Linked DNA regions of Homo sapiens: region 2 is linked to region 1. Evidence: fine-mapped expression QTL. Tissue or cell type: blood mononuclear cells. Region 1 holds a variant in brackets; the other region holds the start of a gene. All regions are shown on one strand. Distances are from middle to middle.

Region 1 (8,470 bases):
CGCCTGGCTTTGTGCCCATTTTATAGATATGAAGACACAGGTTCATGGGGTGGAGGAGAGCATCCCAGTCTTATGTGACCATGGAACCCAATCTTGAGGAGGTGAGTGTTGGAGACAGAGCCCACATATTCACCAGCAAAGCCAGGAACTCCAGCCGGGAGTCTTCTATTATAAAAGGACTGGAGCAACTGGGCTTGGTGCCTCACGCCTATAAGCCCAACACGCTGGGAGGCCAAGGCGGGAGGATCACATGACACCAGGAGGTCGAGATCAGCCTGGGCAGCACAGTGAGACCCCTTCTCCAAAGGGAAAAAAAAATGGCTGGAGGTTAGAAAGCAGGTGGAACCTCGTCCGAAATTAGGACTAGGTAAACGTAGTCCCACCAGACCACTACCGAAAGAATGCTAACACTAAATAAGACTTAAACGGATCTGAGCACTTTGGGAGGCCGAGGTGGGCGGATCACGAGATCAGGAGATCGAGACCGTCCTGGCTAACACGGTGAAACCCCGTCTCTACTCAAAATACAAAAAATTAGCTGGGCGTGGTGGCGGGCGCCTGTAGTCCCAGCTACTCGGGAGGCTGAGACAGGAGAATGGCGTCAACCCGGGAGGCGGAGCTTGCAGGTGAGCCGAGATCGCGCCACTGCACTCCAGCCTGGGCGACAGAGTGAGACTCCGTCTCAAAAAAAAAAAAAAAAAAAGACTTAAACAGGGCTCACTACCACCCATTTTTTAAAGCTTTTGTCACGTGTTAGCTCCTTTAATCGTCATGGTAACCCCACGAAGCGGAAACGATTATCCTTTTTATAGATGAGGAAACTAGAACATCGAGGGTGAAGCCAAAGAAGGACTTAGGGGCGCTGTCGGGGGCGGAGGTTTCCTCGACTGACAATGACCATCAGATGGGAAAAAAATCTTCCTCCCTGGGATGAAAATTAGAAGTCAAGGTGGAAAGAGGCAAATCTGCTAACGGAGGATCCAGTCCCCGCTACCGGCCTGAGCCTCGCGTTGCAGCAAGAGAGATGAAGGTCAGGGCTGCCGAGAGACCCTGGGGGCCGGGAGTCGGGGAAGGGGCGTGGCTGCTGTGGGAGGAGGCCAGGCCCCGCCCCCCACCCACGAGGGGACGAGTCATTTCCGTCCGCCGAGGAACCGACCGCCGCCGGCCGGGTTGCAGGCGGGGCACCTCGGGCAGGACCTCCCTGGTCGGAAGTGGCCGTGAGCCCAAGCCGCGGTCCCGGGTGAGTACGGGGCGGGGCGGAGGCATGTGCGAGGCTCTCTGCCTGTACGCTGGAAAGTGGGGATTGCAACTCGGGGAGGGATGGAGCACGCGTCGTCGCCTGGGAAACGGGTCGACCCGCGGAAGGCGAGCGGGTGGGACTTCCGGAGCAGTTAATGGTGGGGAAACTTTCTAGTGGATGTGGGAGGAGGCGGGACTTCCTGCAGCAAATTGGGGCTGTGCGCCGCTCAAGCCCGTTTACCTGCTCCCCAGGCCGGCACCCAGGATGGGCGAGGTGGAGGCCCCGGGCCGCTTGTGGCTCGAGAGCCCCCCTGGGGGAGCGCCCCCCATCTTCCTGCCCTCGGACGGGCAAGCCCTGGTCCTGGGCAGGGGACCCCTGACCCAGGTTACGGACCGGAAGTGCTCCAGAACTCAAGGTGAGCGGGGCCTGAGCTGGAGGGGGTGTGGCCTGCTGCAAAAGCGGGAACAATCCAGAGGGACGCTTGGCTGCTACGCGGGATTGCAGTGGTGCAGCCAGCCCCGAAGTCGGAAGGTGCTCTCTAGGGAGTACAGGAAGATAAAGTTTGTGCTTGATTTAGAATTAGCTAGATCCTTTGGGGGAGAGGGGATCGAGCCGATTTAGGGAGGATGTTCACTGCGCGGATGATGCTCAGGCCATCGGGAAATCCAGAAACAGGCGACGACCTTCGTCAAGAGAAAAATGATCCTGTGGAGAAAAGTAAATGTCGCTAGGTTGGGATGGATGGTAACAGGCCAAGCCCCGGACCTATATCTAGCCACATTTTTTGTCAAGGAGGAAACCAATTCTGTAGAGAAAAGTACCTCCCTGTCCCTTGCAAGGACCAGTGTCAGGCAATCCTAGTGCCACTATCTGGCTACTGCATGTCAAGGAGCCAATCCCATGTAGAAATAAACTGCCTCTTACTCCCTGGATGCTATAGCCTGAAGCAGGCCACACTCCCCAGAAATGAGGGACCCAATCACACAAGGATGCAAATCCTGACTCCACCCCTCCAATCCTCAGTGGAGCTGGTCGCAGATCCTGAGACCCGGACAGTGGCAGTGAAACAGGTATCAGTGCCTCTGCAAGGGCCAGCAAGGCCTGGGGATGGGATTTGGGGAGGAATTGCAAGCCGTCAGTGAAGGGGTACATTAGGAAAATCTGATTGGGGCCGGGCGTGGTGGCTCAAGCCTGTAATCCCAGCACTTTGGGAGGCCGAGGCGGGCGGATCGCTTGAACCCAGGAGTTCGAGACCAGCCTGAGCGACATGGTGAAACCTGTCTCTCTAAAAAATTAGCGGGAATGGTGGCGCGTCCTTGTAGTTCCTAATCGGGAGGCTGAAGCGGGAGGATCCCTTGAGCCCAGTAGGTCAAGGGTGTAGTGAGCAGTGATCACCACACTGTACTTCAGCCTGGGTGACAGAGCGAGAACCTGTCTCAAAAAAAGAAAAGAAAAAATATGGCTGGGAGAGAAGGGGATGTGTCCAGTAAAGAAAGAAGTGTTGCCTGTTTCAGTGGGGTGGGTACCTGTCCAAGACCTTAGAAATTGGACAAGGCGGCCAGGCGCGGTGGCTCACGCCTGTAATCCCAGCACTTTGGGAGGCTAGGCGGGCGGATCACCCGAGATCAGGAGTTTGTGACCAGCCTGGCCAACATGGCGAAACCCCATCTCTACTAAAAATACAAAAATTAGCGGGGCATGGTGGCGGGTGCCTGTAATCCCAGCTACTCGGGTAGCTGAGGCAGGAGAATCGTTTGAACCCAGGAGGCACAGGTTTCAATGAGCCAAGATTGCACCACTGCACTCCAGCCTGGGCGACAAAACAAGCCTATATCTCCAGGGGAAAAAAAAAAAAAAAAAAAAAAAAGATTCGGACAAGGCTGAAAACCTGTAACCGTTCCAAAGCCCGTTCCAAAGTGAAGAGGTGGGGCCTAAGGGTCTGATAGTGGTGGAGAAGGGCTGATTTTTCCGCTGGGTATTTGATTGGAGGAAGCTCCCGGTGGGGGCGGAGCCAGTCCCAGCTCCTCCCTCTCTTTCTGCAGCTGGGAGTTAACCCCTCAACTACCGGGACCCAGGAGTTGAAGCCGGGGTTGGAGGGCTCTCTGGGGGTGGGGGACACACTGTATTTGGTCAATGGCCTCCACCCACTGACCCTGCGCTGGGAAGAGACCCGCACACCAGAATCCCAGCCAGATACTCCGCCTGGCACCCCTCTGGTGTCCCAAGATGAGAAGAGAGATGCTGAGCTGCCGAAGAAGCGTATGCGGAAGTCAAACCCCGGCTGGGAGAACTTGGAGAAGTTGCTAGTGTTCACCGCAGCTGGGGTGAAACCCCAGGGCAAGGTGAGGGCCACGCCGAGGGCTGAGGGAGCCGCCACAGACTGGGACCCAATCCCACGTTTGTTGCGTGCTCTCAACTTTTTAGCCTCTACTTACTTTTCTGAGAAATGGGCCTAATGATAAATGCAGGGATCGTTGTAAGCAGTTAAGCAGTGGGGAGAATGATATATGTCAGCTCCTGCGTTACCCACAGTGACCACCCAGTAATCAGCAATGACCATGACTGTCTCAGTAGGAGCTATTACGATGAGGATTTTTTATGTCCAGAGAGACTTGAGTTCAAATGCTGTTACCACCACATTCTGAGTCCCATGTGTCTCATCTCTACGATGCTGAATCCATAAAAAAAGCACGTGGCATAGTTCCTGACATGCAGTTAGCACCCAAAGCTTTGCTCCTGCTTTTATTTTCACGGTTATTAGCCCACCGAGGTGGTGAAGGCCAGGGGAAGAAGGAGGCTGGGTAAGACATTAACCCCCATTTTAAAGACTGTAATCCTGGGGCTGGCGTCATAAGGAGTAACAGGAGACAGTAAGGTTAAGATGTCGGGCCCCACTCAGAGGCATCACGGATGCTTGAGATGGAGGTGCTCTGTGACTCGGTTTCCCCATCTGTGAGATGGCAGTGATAACACCCTGCCTGGCAGGGTTGGTGTGAGTCAGCCTGTGAGTGAGGAGGGTCAGAGGTATCACAGTGCTGCTGTTTGTCTTTCCTTGGTGACACCAGGTGGCTGGCTTTGATCTGGACGGGACGCTCATCACCACACGCTCTGGGAAGGTCTTTCCCACTGGCCCCAGTGACTGGAGGTGATAAGAGGCAAAACAAGGGAGTGAGTGAGGCCTGGAGTCCACCTCTGGCCCCGGGTCACCCCTGCCGCTTCATACCTGCCGTAGGATCTTGTACCCAGAGATTCCCCGTAAGCTCCGAGAGCTGGAAGCCGAGGGCTACAAGGTATGTGCAGCCGCCTGTCTGCATGGGCACGTGCACGTGGCGGTCCGACCGCAGTCAGACCAAGGCCCTGGTGAGCAGAG[C/T]GTCTGGTGACACCCTTTGCTCCCCAGCTGGTGATCTTCACCAACCAGATGAGCATCGGGCGCGGGAAGCTGCCAGCCGAGGAGTTCAAGGCCAAGGTGGAGGCTGTGGTGGAGAAGCTGGGGGTCCCCTTCCAGGTATGGCTGGAAGGGAGGCTGGGAGCTATGTGGGGGCACAGAGATCCAGAGCGAGGGCTTTAGACTCCAGGGTAAGCGGGGCGGAGGCCTCAGGCAGTGTGATGCTGATAGGAACCCATCATCAGCTACAAATTCTGGGCTGGGGTGGCATCCAGTAGGTGCTTGAGGGGGAGCTAAAGCTGGTGGCCCCCTCCCATCCACAGGTGCTGGTGGCCACGCACGCAGGCTTGTACCGGAAGCCGGTGACGGGCATGTGGGACCATCTGCAGGAGCAGGTGAGTCTTGCAGCCTGCCCGGCCCCCCTCCTTTTCCTCACTCCAGCCCCTCACTCCTGGGCTCCCCGGCCTCCGGTTGGGGCCTCCTTACTCCTCTGTCCTCTCTCGCTCCCTCCTTCTGTTTTTTGCTGTGACATCTTAGATGTTGGTTTACGAGACCAGTGCTTTCAGACTTTCTACATCAGAGTAGTAGGGAAGCTGTTCATTCCTTCGTTCATTCGTTTGTGTGTGCATTTGTTCTGAAGTTTAGCGCATTCTTGAGCTGAAGGTATCAGTGAGCGGGACGGCCTGCTCCAGCAGGGCCCTCACGGCGAGGGCGGTGACTCTAGGCGGATGGGCAGACTGGCGTGTAAAACAGCAGGAGGGAGGGAGCTGGAGAAAGCAGGCATCACCCGTGGTGGGCAGGGATGGCCTCTGAGGAGGTGACATCAGAGGAAAAGGCCTAAGGCAGGGAAAGGAGGGAGCCAGGTGGACACCTGGGGAAAGCGGTCCCCCCCCTTGTGGGAGTGACAGCAAGTGCAAAGGCCCTGAGGCAGTCCCTAGCCTGGGCTAGTTAGGGACAGCGAGGCCCATGCGGCTGGCTCTAAGCGAGGGAGGGGAGAGGGCAGGGCCACAGGGAGGGCCCCGCTTTTGCCCTGAGGGAGGGGGAACCTGGGAGGCGCCGGCACGCCGGAGGCTGGAGCTGTAGCAGGGTGGGTGCCCTCCGGTGGCCGCGTGGGGAACGGGAGGAGGTGAAGTCGGGAGACCTGGAGGGAGGGGGCTGTGTGGAGAGACCACGGAGGGGGGAGGGGGCCAGGAGCACGGTGCAAAGTGGCTGGAGAGTGAGGACATGAAAGGTCGGGGGATGATTCCTGATGTGGGGCACAGACCAGGCGAAGCAGCCCCAGGGACCCGCTACCGCTGCGGGGGGACATTTGTGGGAAGGGCCTCCTCACTACCGTCTCCCGTAGGCCAACGACGGCACGCCCATATCCATCGGGGACAGCATCTTTGTGGGAGGTAAGGGCCTGGAGGCTGCTGAGGGTGGGCTGGGACGCCTCCCTCCGAGCTGGTGGGAACGGGGTGTCCCGTGTGTTCCAGACGCAGCCGGACGCCCGGCCAACTGGGCCCCGGGGCGGAAGAAGAAAGACTTCTCCTGCGCCGATCGCCTGGTGAGGCCCCTGCCCCCTGCCCCGCGCCCGAGCCCGACCCTGGCCTGTGTCTGATGTTCGTCCTCAACCCCTAGTTTGCCCTCAACCTTGGCCTGCCCTTCGCCACGCCTGAGGAGTTCTTTCTCAAGTGGCCAGCAGCCGGCTTCGAGCTCCCAGCCTTTGATCCGGTGAGGCCCTGGGGCGGGGGTGGGGGTGGGGATGGGAGGGCTCCCGGGGATGGGGACGGCATCTCACGCGTGTCCCCCGCCCCTCGCAGAGGACTGTCTCCCGCTCAGGGCCTCTCTGCCTCCCCGAGTCCAGGGCCCTCCTGAGCGCCAGCCCGGAGGTGGTTGTCGCAGTGGGATTCCCTGGGGGTAAGTGTCCTGTTCCTGTGCGCGTGCCCTGAGCCCCGCCTGGGTCCTAGGCCACCCACCGACACTGCCCCCCACACAGCCGGGAAGTCCACCTTTCTCAAGAAGCACCTCGTGTCGGCCGGATATGTCCACGTGAACAGGGTATGACCAGGCTTTTGCCGCCCCAAATCTATTATAAAGTTCCCATCTCCACCTCTCAACTGGTTTGGGGCGGCTTTCCTCCATCATTGCCTCCCCGTCCCCGCTCGGGGTCTTCTCTCCCCCTGGGTCTGCCGATCTGTTTGTGACCTCTCGTGTCCCCAGGACACGCTAGGCTCCTGGCAGCGCTGTGTGACCACGTGTGAGACAGCCCTGAAGCAAGGGAAACGGGTCGCCATCGACAACACAAACCCAGACGCCGCGAGCCGCGCCAGGTAGCGTGACCGCGGGGCCGTAGGTGGCCTGCGGCGGGGTGGGCGGGGCCTGCACATCCAGCTCCTTCCCCCACAGGTACGTCCAGTGTGCCCGAGCCGCGGGCGTCCCCTGCCGCTGCTTCCTCTTCACCGCCACTCTGGAGCAGGCGCGCCACAACAACCGGGTGAGCCCGCTCAGCCCGGACACCCCCCGGGCTGCACCCCCTGACCCCCCTCCTCCCCTGACCCCTGGGCCTGCCGCCCCTCTGATGTTCCCCACAGTTTCGAGAGATGACGGACTCCTCTCATATCCCCGTGTCAGACATGGTCATGTATGGCTACAGGTACTGTTGGGGATAGCAGGGGGCAGGGGCACTGGCTGGGCCACATGATCCAGGCTGTCCCTCACTGTTCCCACCACTGCCAGGAAGCAGTTCGAGGCCCCAACGCTGGCTGAAGGCTTCTCTGCCATCCTGGAGATCCCGTTCCGGCTATGGGTGGAGCCGAGGCTGGGGCGGCTGTACTGCCAGTTCTCCGAGGGCTGAGCCCCGCCCAGCTCCCCTCCACAATAAACGCTGTTTCTCCTTGAGCTTGGCCGGCATTTTGCTGGAAGGAGGGTGGTCCCCACGGGGGAGGGGCTCCAGGCCTGCCAGTTTCTTACATGGAGGAGGCTTTAAGGACATTTTCAGGTAACAAAAGGTGGGGCCCTACCGAGGGGAGTCCAGCTGGGACCTGGCATGAGCACTTTAGACATTAGCCGGGGAACACACAGGGAGGGCGCTGTGTGGCCCCCCGAGAGCCAGCTGGTGAGCCCACGAGCCTCAACCGAGGGGCTGGCTCAAGGCCAGGTGTGACCCCTGAGGACAAAATCCAGCTCAGGTTCTGTGACACTGAACTTGAACCCAAGGCCTGCGGGTCTGGAGATTCGGGGGGGAAGAGGGTGTGGACAGCCGAGAGCCAGACCCAGTGAGTTCCCGGGCTGTCCAGCCTGCTGGGCCACCTTAGAGCTAGGGGGCTGCAAGGCATCGGGCAGTGAGCAGAGAAGGCAGGCAGGTTTTTAAAAGGCTTTATTGGGGAAACGTAGAGGGGTGGGGACCGTCCTTGGAGGCCTCAGGACACCATCCTCCATGTTGCTGGGCAGTTGAAGTCCCCAGGGGCCCCTGCTCAGAAGCGTGTCACCTGGGGGCAGGGGTGCAGTGGGGGCTGCTGGCCACAGGCTCCCAAGCACTGACCCCACATCCCTGTGAGCAGAGGCCTGGCCCCACCCAGGCCTGGATACCACCTCCCATGGCCCTGAGGCTGGGCTGCAGTTTCCCGACAGCCTAGGACCGCTGGGACTGCTGCCTCTCCCTCTGCTCTGCTCTCCCCAAGGCCAAGGTCGCCCTGCTTCTTTCCCAACCCCACCCCCCCCACATGCCCCAGGGTCCCTCCTGTACATGACAGGGTCACCACTCACCAGTCTCTGCGGGGGCCTCATCTGTGACTCCTGGAGGGGCCCAGCCCGGGGTAACCACTACCCCCCCATCTACGGCGAGAAATCAGAGGCCAGTGGTG
Region 2 (9,556 bases), 97 kb after region 1:
ACTTGAGCCCAGGAATTTGAGACCAGCCCGGGCAACATAATAAAAACCCATCTCCGTGAACCCGGGAGGTGGAGCTTGCAGTGAGCGGAGATCGCGCCACTGCACTCCAGCCTGGGCGACAGAGCAAGACTCCATCTCAAAAAAAAAAAAAAAAAAAAAAAAAAAAAAACTCTATGAAAAATACAAAAAAATTTGCTGGGCATGATGGCATGTGCCTATAGTCCCAGCTACTTAGGAGGCTGAGGCGGGAGGATAGCTTGATCCCAGGAGGAGGAGGTTGCAGCGAGCTGAGATCGCACCACTGTACTCCAGCCGGGATGACAGAGCCAGACTCTGTCAAAAAAAAGAAAGAGAGACAGGGTCTTGCTATGTTGCCAAGGCTGGTCTCAAATTCCTGGCCTCAAGCAATCCTTCTGCCTCCACCTCCTGAGTAGCTGGGACTAGATAGAGATGCCCGCCATGGCGTCCGGAAGTCAGGACCTTTGCACTTGCCCCGCCTCTGCCTTCACAGCTCTTCTCACTGCCCTCAGCCTAGGTAACTCCCCTACTTCCTGCCCACACAGCTCCAAAGGTCTCTTGTGAAGCAAAGCCAGGCCGCAGCTCGCTGACCACACAGAATCCCCATTCTCTCAACACCATGGCCCTCTTCCTCACTGGGCTTAGGACAGCTGCAAATTCTTTCCCCATTTAAAAAAAAATCGAGATACGGCCAGGCGCGGTGGCTCACACCTGTAATCTCAGCATTTTGTGAGGCTGAAGCAGGCAGATCACTCGAGATCAGGAGTTCGAGACCAGCCTGGCCAACATGGTGAAACCCTGTCTCTACTAAAAATACAAAAATCAGCGGGGCATAGTGGCGGGCGCCTATAATCCCAGCTACTCGGGAGGCTGAGGCAGGAGAATCGCTTGAACCTGGGAAATGGAGGGTGCAGTGAGCCAAGATCGCGCCATTTTTGTGACTGTCACAAAAAAAAAGAGATACAATTCACATACCATAAAATTGACCCTTTTACAGTGAACAATTCAGCGTTCTTTAGTACATTCATGATGTTGTGCAACCATTACTACTATCGAATTCCAGGACCTTTCTTTTTTTTTTTTTTTTTTTTTTTAAGAGATGAGGTTTCACTATGTGGCCCGGGCTGGATTCGAACTCCTGGGTTCAAATGATCCTCCTACCTCAGTCTCCCAAGTAGCTGGGACTACAAGCATGTGCCGTGTCCAGCTGTAGGCTTTTTCATGAACCCAAAAGAAGCTCTGAATGCTGCCGGGCATGGTAGCTCACACCTGTAATCCTAGCACTTTGGAAGGCTGGGGTAGTGGATCACCTGAGGCCAGGAGTTCGAGACCATCCTGACCAACATGTAAAAACCCCGTCTCTACTAAAAGTACAAAAATTAGCCAGGTGTGGTGGCACACGCCTGTAATCCCAGCTACTCAGGAAGCTGAGGCAGGAGAATCGCCTGAACTTGGGAGGCAGAGGTTGCAGTAAGCCGAGATCACCCCATTGCACTCCAGCCTGGGCGACAGAGTGAGACTCCATCTCAAAAAATAAAAAAAGAACCTATGCATTCATGAGCAGTCACTCCCCATCCCACCAGCCCCTACTCTAGGCAACCACTAATCTTTCTGTCTCCATGGATCTGCCTATTCAAGATACTCTATCAACATGGAATCATACAACACGTGGCCTCCTGTGTCTGGCTTCTTTCACTTGGTGTCATGTTTTCAAGGTCCATCCCTGTGGCAGCATGTAGCAGGACGTCATTATTTTTTAAGGCCCGGTAATATTCCACTACATAGACCACACTTTATTTCTCAGTTGATGGGCATTTGGCCCGTTTCTGTTTTCCGGCTATCATGAATAATGTTGCAGTGAACATCCGTGTCCAGGTATTAGTGTGAAGGACTACTGCAATTTGTATGTTGCACCTTCTCCCCCACAGGGCTGGGAGCTTCATGGAGGGGGTGGACAAGTCTGTCCTGTTCACCAGTGTCCCCAGCATTCAGCACAATTCTTGAGACATACCAGCCGTTCAACATACGCTTGCTAAGAAAAGGCTCCTGATTCTCCAGCCCTAATTCCTGTGGCTAAATTACTACCAGTGCCCCAAGCCTGCATCTCCCCTCTGTCCTCTGGCTCGTCTCTGGGGTCCTGCAGTGACGGGACGATCTCTTTCCTTCCCCAACCCCCATCATCAAATCCCTTTGCAAATCCTGACAGTTTTTCCTTCAAGTTGTATCCCAGGCTGGGTGCAGTGGCTCACGCTTATAATGCCAGCACTTTGGGAGGCCAAGGCGGGCAGATCACTTGAGGTTGGGAGTTCGAGACCAGCCTGGCCAACATGGGGAAACCCTGCGTCTACTAAAAATACAAAAATTAGCCAAGCGTGGTGGCGGGTGCCTGTAATCCCAGCTACCGGGGAGGCTGAGGCACGAGAATTGCTTGAACCTGGGAGGCGGAGGTTGCAGTGAGGTATGATCGTGCCACTGCACTCCAACCTGGGCAACAGAGACTGTCTCGGAAAAAAAAATGTATCACCAACCCATTTCTCACCAGTCCCTTCTCACCCTGTTAAGCCAGCACCATCTCTCACCCAGAGGCCTGCAACACCCTCCTAATTTGGTTCCCTGCTTCCATGGCTACCTCTAGAATCTGTTCTCACAGCAGCCAGAGGAATTATCTTAAAACATCAATCGGTCACATCCCTCCCCTGCTCAAAATATTCTCATGCAGACAAAGGCCAAAGTGCTCACCATGGCCCAGAAAGCCTTTCCCGATCCTGTTCCCACTCCCCTCCACACCCGCCCTCTCTCCCCTTCACTCCCACAGCTTCAGCCACACTGACCTTCTCCCTCTCGCTCGAACACATGTCAAGCATGCCGCAACCTCAGGACCTCTGAATGCACCTCCCTGTGCCAGGACCCCTTTCCTCCAAAATCCACAGGGCTTGCTCCACTCAGATATGACTTCCTCCACGAGGCCTACTGAGTACCCTCTCCATCCTAGTCCCTCTCCCGACCATTTCCTCCTTATTTTTCTTCACAGAACCAGTCAGGTCCTGAGGTTGTATATCAGGGTGTTCCCTGTGCATATGTTCTGTCTTCCTCGGGGAAGGGAGCTCCCAAGGACAGGAGTTTCTTTTTCTTTTTTTTTATTTTTGGAGACGGAGTTTCACTCTTGTTGCCCAGCCTGGAGTGCAATGGTGTGAATCTCGGCTCATTGCAACCTCTGCCTCCCGGGTTCAAGCGATTCTCCTGCCTCAGCCTCCTGAGTAGCTGGGATTACAGGCACCCACCACCACACCTGGCTAATTTTTGTATTTTTAGTAGAGATGGAGTTTCACCATGTTGGCCAGGTTGGTCTTGAACTCCTGACCTCAGGTGATCCGCCTACCTCGGCCCCCCAAAGTGCTGGGATGACAGGCATGAGCCACCATGACCAGCAAGAACAGGAATTTCTGTTCACTATTGTCACCCCAGTACCTAGAACAGGGCCTGGACAACACTAGAGCAATCAAAAAGTATTTGTCAAGTGAATGAATGAATAAATGAGCCTTCAGAGGCAAGACACTGTTATGAATGAAGTTTGCAGACAAGAAAACGTCCTGAAAGAGGTTAAACAACTCGTGGAGGGTCACATCCCTGGTGGGTAACAGAGGCAGCCCCCGTCTGCTAACAGTGGCTCCCAGCTCCTCCACAACCCCCATAGCCCCGCCCCTTATCATAACAAGTGATCATTTCTCCTCCAACTGATACTCAACTGTTTCCACCCTCCTGTTCCCTGAGCACCTATTACATGCCAGATCCTTCCATAACAGTTAAATTCTAAAACAACAACCATCACTGGGTACTTTACAGGGCTGCTGTTCAGAGCCAACGGAGTAAAAACAATAGCCAAGTTCCATCTGGGGCCTGGAACGAGTGAAAGGCCTGAGGGGCATTGTCACAAGCCCCTCAGGAAGATACTATCAGCAGTCTCTCTTGACAGATGAGGAAACCGAGAGGTGAAGTCCCTCATTCAAGGTCACACAGCCAGGGAGTGGCAGTGCTCAAACGCAAACCCAAGTCTGGCTGACCCCAGAGCCCATGCGGATGCAGCCTCTGAAGACTCCTGGCAGCTCCAATCACCCACAGCCATTCCCAGGAGTTGAGAGCTGACTTGCCGCCAGGATTCCCATCGTCACGACAACTCTTCCTGGCAGGGACCACCGTCCCCATATTACTGTGGTCAAATAGAAAAGGGCTCAGATCCCTGCCTGTCCTGCTGCCTGACCCCTGACCTCTCTCTGGGATTAGACTTCCCCTATTCCCAGCTTTCCAGATATCTACCCCTCAAGCACTTCAGAACCCAACGCCTTCCTTGAGGTCTGGGCGCTCCTTCTTCTACCCTTTCCCCAATCCCCTACTCTAATGTCCTCTTCTTTCCTGGCCCCCCGTTCCCTGTCACAGGTTCTCCCAAGACCTTACACCGACAGCTCTTTTCCTCTGTGTTCCTTGGGTCCCTCCTTTCCCCTCAGCTGCCCCTCTAGCCCCCTCCACACTGCCTTCCATGTCTTCTAGGCAATCTCCCACCCTGAAGCCCCTCTATCCTTCACCAGGGTGTCCTTATAGTCTCCCCGTCCCATCATCTCCCTGCCCCAAACTCATGGACTTTCAACCACTCTCAGGCCTCCTCTATACCACTGGCCAGGAGCCTCGGTGACCTATCTAACCCCTTTCCCCTGTATGACACCCCCTATCCCAGGTCCTCAAGCCCTGCTTCATTAGGCTTCCGGCATTCCACTTCCTCCAGGTCCCCTCTGGCCTCTTCCCATTCCATCGCTCCACAGGGCACCCCCGCCATACACTTCTTTCACTTCTTCTCTACATTGGGAATCCCTCTAACCCCATCGTTTGTAAGATCCCCCAGCTTTTCAGTCTTTCCCAGGGGACACCTCTATGCTCCCATCCCCGGGACCTCACTGGCTTCCTCCCCTTTCAAGCCCTCCCGGACCCCTCTAGCTACTCCGTGTCGTCACCTCAAGAGGCACTCTATGACACCCCAAGCCCCTACGTGCCCCCCACTCTAAAGTTCTTCCTGGGGCCCATCTATGCTGTCCCTATACGGCCGCAGAGGCTTTTGATCCCCCGGGTCCCTCTGTGATCCCCAAACCCCTCAATTTCACGCTCCCCCCTCCCCCGCGTCTCCAGTGTCCCCCGGCCGCGCGCTCACAGTTCCGGATGTCGGAGATGAACACCGCGAGCCCCCGCATCCCATCGCCCTTGGACACGGCCGGCATGATGGCGGTGGTGTCGGCTCCAGGCCTGGCCGGACAGGGCACAGAGCAGCGGGGGCTGGCAAGCGGGGACCGGGCGGAAAGGACCCCAGGCAGCGCCAAGGAGCCGAGCCGGCCGCGGGGAGGGCTGGCTGGCGGGCGGGCGGGCGGGCTGGCAGGCCGTGGCACCGCCCCCTGCCCCTCCCCTCCGCCCGCGGTCCGGAGCTCTGAGCCGCCCACTGGCTTGAGCTCCTGCCGCTCACAGGCGGGTTTCTCCCCCACTTCCTCTCTCATTGGCCGCCAAGCAAAGGCACGACGCTACGATTGGCCCAGTGTTCCGCTATTTCCGTTTGGGAGCTGGGGAGGGGGGGGAGGAGGCGTTGCCCGAGAGACGGGCGGGGTTCGATTGCGTATCATGGGCCCGCCCCCTCCGCGCGGCCAGGTCAAACACTGATTGGATCTAGCGGCTCTCCAAGGAGGAAGGGAGGGACGTGAAGGAAGGCGGGGAACGGTCCTAGGAGGCGGGACTTAGGTTGACTGGGACCAATGAACGGGTAGACCTGCCCCGCAGGCGTCGCGGATTGGCGAGATCTGTCCTACTTCAGCCCTCCATTGGGCGGCTGTGGGGCGGGCGGAAGGCGAAGATCAGTAGAGAAGGAAAGAGGGGAGGGTGTCACTCCGCTCGGCTGGGATAGGTGGAGCGACGCCTGCAATTCCCTGCTGCAGAGAAGGGGTTGGGCGAGGCAAGAGAGCGTGCGGTGTTTACTGCGCAAGCGTCTCCGTGTTCCCTTTCTCCCTCCACTGTCACCCCCGACTGCTGAAATCCTCTTCTAGGAAGCCTTCCTCCCCTCCCCCCTTCTCTGCAGCCAACGTGTCGGGACTTGAGTTGTCAGGAGACCTAGAATCTCAGAGTGAAAAACAGTAATTCAAGGCTAGTCCCATTAAGCAGAAGTTAAAACTTAGGTCGAGAGGGCGAATGACTTGCCCAGGGCCACACAGCTTGGAAGTGAAAAAGCAGAAATAAACGTAAACCGTATCTTGGCTTACTTTTCAATATATGTTGCCTTTTTTTTTTTGTCCAACCGCAGTGTCTCTCGGGCAGCCTCCATTGTAGCAGATATCAAACCAAAATTGATTGTCTCCTCCAGACTGGGAACTCCTTCTGGGCAAGAATGGGACCTGGCCTTGAACAGTTTCAACAACATTTGTTAAAAGAAGAAATAGGTGAATCTGCTTTGGCCCAGCCCCAGCCTCCATCCCCAACCCCCAGCTCCCCAGAGACTCTTTGGTAAACTGGCTTTGGGGAAGGCAAAACGGCCAGAACTCCCAACGCCCCAGGAGATTGAGAAATTTGGGACAAAGGGAACTGGAAGAGTCCATTTCTGTCACCTGTAGGAACAAAACTCCACCCCATCAGCCTTTTCTAATCTCAGAAGCCAAGAATTCCTGGAATGAGCCTTGGGGGTGTGTTCTGGACCTTTGGAATGGCCATTCTGAATCCTGGGAGATGGAAAGGAGGTTGAGAAGAGCCCACCTTCCAGGCTCAATGGATGCGTCCATTTGGGTTTCCAGGAATGGGGCCTGGGAAAGTCCATTTTGGATTCCAGGAGGACAGAAATTGCTCAGCTGTTTTAGTCACAGGGAGAGTCCATTTCTAATATGGGAGGGGGGTGCTGTTTGCCCCTGAAGAACATAAAGCAGCCCCATTAAACACAAGAAAAATTATTAATCCCAGGACTTGAAGTTCTTTTTTTTTTTTTTTGAGATGGAGTCTCGCTCTGTCGCCCAGGCTGGGGTGCAGTGGCGCGATCTCAGCTCACTGCAACCTCCGCCTCCCGGGTTCACGCCATTCTCCTGCCTCAGCCTCCCAAGTAGCTGGGACTACAGGCGCACGCCACCATGCCTGGCTAATTTTTTGTGTTTTTAGTAGAGACGGGGTTTCACCGTGTTAGCCAGGATGGTCTCGATCTCCTGACCTTGTGATCCGCCCACCTCGGCCTCCCAAAGTGCTGGAATTACAGGCGTGAGCCACTGCGCCCGGCCTTTTTTTTTTTTCTTTTTTTTGAGACAGAGTCTCTCTCTGTCCCCCAGGCTGGAGTTCAGTGACTCAATCTCGGCTCACTGTAACCTCTTCCTCCCGAGTTAAAGCGATTTTCCTGCCTCAGCCTCCTAAGTAGCTGGGATTACAGGCACCCGTCATCATGCTCGCCTAATTTTTGTATTTTTGTAGAGACAGTGTTTCACTATGTTGGCCAGGCTGGTCTTGAACTCCTAACCTCAGGTGATCCGCCCGCCTCGGCCTCCCAAAGTGCTGGGATTACAGGTGTGAGACACCGCGCCCAGCCAGGAGTTCTTTATTATAGAAAGATTAAGTGTTCCAAGAACTGGAGTCCATTCATGACCAGGAAGAAGTACTTTCTCCCTGGGGATAACAGCATTTAAAATGTCTATTAGCAGTGATGTTTGAACTAGTCTTTTTGAGAAGTGTGAAGAGAACAGGAAAAGTCTGTCCCTAAATAGCAGGGCAGTGCTCGCTTCGACAGCACATGTATTAACATTGGAACGATACAGAGAAGATTAGCATGGGCCCTGCGCAAAGACCACATGCAAATTTGTGACATGTTCCATATATTTTTTAAATACTTTGGGCGGGCGGGGCGCAGTGGCTCACACCTGTAATTCCAATGCTTTGGGAGGCTGAAGTGGGCAGATCACGAGGTCAGGAGTTGGAGACTAGCCTAGCCAACACAGTGAAACCCTGTCTCTACTAAAAATACAAAAAAAAAATTAGATGGGTGTGGTGGCAGGTACCTGTAGTCCCAGCTACTCAGGAGGCTGAGGCAGGAGAATCGCTTGAAACTGGGAGGTAGAGGTTGCAATGAGCCAAGATCACGCCACTGCACTCCAGCCTGGGTGTCAGAGCGAGACTCCATCTAAAAAAAAAAAAAAAAAATTATAGCGGAGCATGGTGGCTCATGTCTGTAATCCCACACTTTGGGAGGCTAAGGCGGGTGGACCATTTGAGGTCGGGAGTTTGAGACCAACTTGGCCAACATGGTGAAACCCGTCTCTACTAAAAATACAAAAATTAGCCGGACATTGTGGCCAGCGCCTGTAGTCCCAGCTACTGGGGAGGCTGAGGCAGGAGAATCGGTTGAACCCCGGGAGGTGGAGGTTGCAATGAGCTGAGATCGCGCCACTGAACTCCAGCCTCCATGACAGAGAGAGACTCTGTCTCAAAAAAAATAAAAAGTATTAAAGAAAATAATAAATAAATAAACGGGGGAGGGGGATACCACCCTCTGTCCTGCCCCAACTCTCTACCTTCCTCTCCTCCCTCACCTTCTACCCTGACCCCGAGGCCCACCGCACCTAGCTTTCTTTTGTTGATCTACCTGTATATTGCCTTTCCCCCGACCCCGACGCCCCATAGAATATGAGACCCTCCAGGTCAGGGTCTGGATCTCAGCCCTCTTCGACCACAGTCTCTCAAACCCCAGCCAATTGTCAAATCCAGGAAGCTACATGAAGAATCAAGAACAAGTGCACAGGGCTGTGTGACCCCACGCTTAGTCTCAGGGAGAGGGAAGTTGGACCTCTCCCAAGAATCCGTGGGCCGACCCATTGTTAAGTTACAGGCTAGCATGAATCCATCCACTGGAGCTCTGAAGACGGGGGGCACATTGGGCATGTAACTAGAATCCTGAACAGGAGGAGTCCACTGAGAACCCTAGGGGAATGACCTGGGCCAGCATCTCTCCCTACCCTGTGCCCCCCACTCACTGGGGCCCAGTGGTTGGGTCCTTTGTGAGGCAGGCTGAGGGGACAGTGGATCCTGAGGGTCTGTGGTCACAGTAGGTAGGAAGTCTCAGAGGAAGGAGCCCCTCCCTGGGAGCCAGACCCCCACACCATGGCGAGCGTGGTGGTGAAGACGATCTGGCAGTCCAAAGAGATCCATGAGGCCGGGGACACCCCCACGGGGGTGGAGAGCTGCTCCCAGCTAGTCCCAGAGGCTCCCCGGAGGGTGACCAGCCGGGCCAAGGGGATCCCGAAGAAAAAGAAGGCCGTGTCGTTCCACGGGTGGGTTTGTTGCACACTGTCAGGGATGGTTCTAATGCCCAGCACTACCTCCAACAGAGCAGGAGTCCGACTGTGGGTGCTAGAGGAAGGGGAGGGGGAAAAGCCAGCAGGTCGGGGGCAGGAAAGAGGGCAGCAGTGAAGAGACATCAAGTCACAGGGAGGTAGAGAGGAAGAAGGTAATGGGGATGGATGGAGGGAGGAAGAAGGTAATGGGGATG

What was found. PIP is the estimated chance that this variant, and not a neighbour inherited with it, causes the effect.
Region 2: AP2A1 starts here. The variant in region 1 is fine-mapped to the expression of AP2A1 in blood mononuclear cells (TOPMed, PIP above 0.99).

Annotation. Positions count from the first base shown.
Region 1 is chr19:49,860,239-49,868,708 of GRCh38, reverse strand. It overlaps PTOV1 (PTOV1 extended AT-hook containing adaptor protein), which reads right to left. Exons shown (of 12, transcript NM_001394010.1): 12 at 7,967-8,441. The coding sequence ends at 8,430. PNKP (polynucleotide kinase 3'-phosphatase) reads left to right here and starts at 1,133. Exons shown (of 17, transcript NM_007254.4): 1 at 1,133-1,240; 2 at 1,492-1,655; 3 at 2,264-2,310; 4 at 3,283-3,582; 5 at 4,306-4,385; 6 at 4,473-4,530; 7 at 4,638-4,745; 8 at 4,949-5,020; 9 at 5,971-6,019; 10 at 6,101-6,171; 11 at 6,246-6,338; 12 at 6,428-6,524; 13 at 6,604-6,665; 14 at 6,828-6,937; 3 more. The coding sequence starts at 1,505. The coding sequence ends at 7,461. RefSeq lists silencers at 997-1,296, 1,367-1,736 and enhancers at 896-1,677, 1,678-2,460, 2,461-3,243. The variant C/T (reference allele first, on the strand shown) is at 4,611.
Region 2 is chr19:49,762,860-49,772,415 of GRCh38, reverse strand. AP2A1 (adaptor related protein complex 2 subunit alpha 1) reads right to left here and starts at 5,415. Exons shown (of 23, transcript NM_130787.3): 1 at 5,216-5,415. The coding sequence starts at 5,282. It overlaps TSKS (testis specific serine kinase substrate), which reads left to right and starts at 9,110. Exons shown (of 11, transcript NM_021733.2): 1 at 9,110-9,338. The coding sequence starts at 9,169. It also overlaps the pseudogene RNU6-841P. RefSeq lists enhancers at 87-1,011, 4,951-5,719, 5,773-6,750 and a silencer at 5,281-5,860.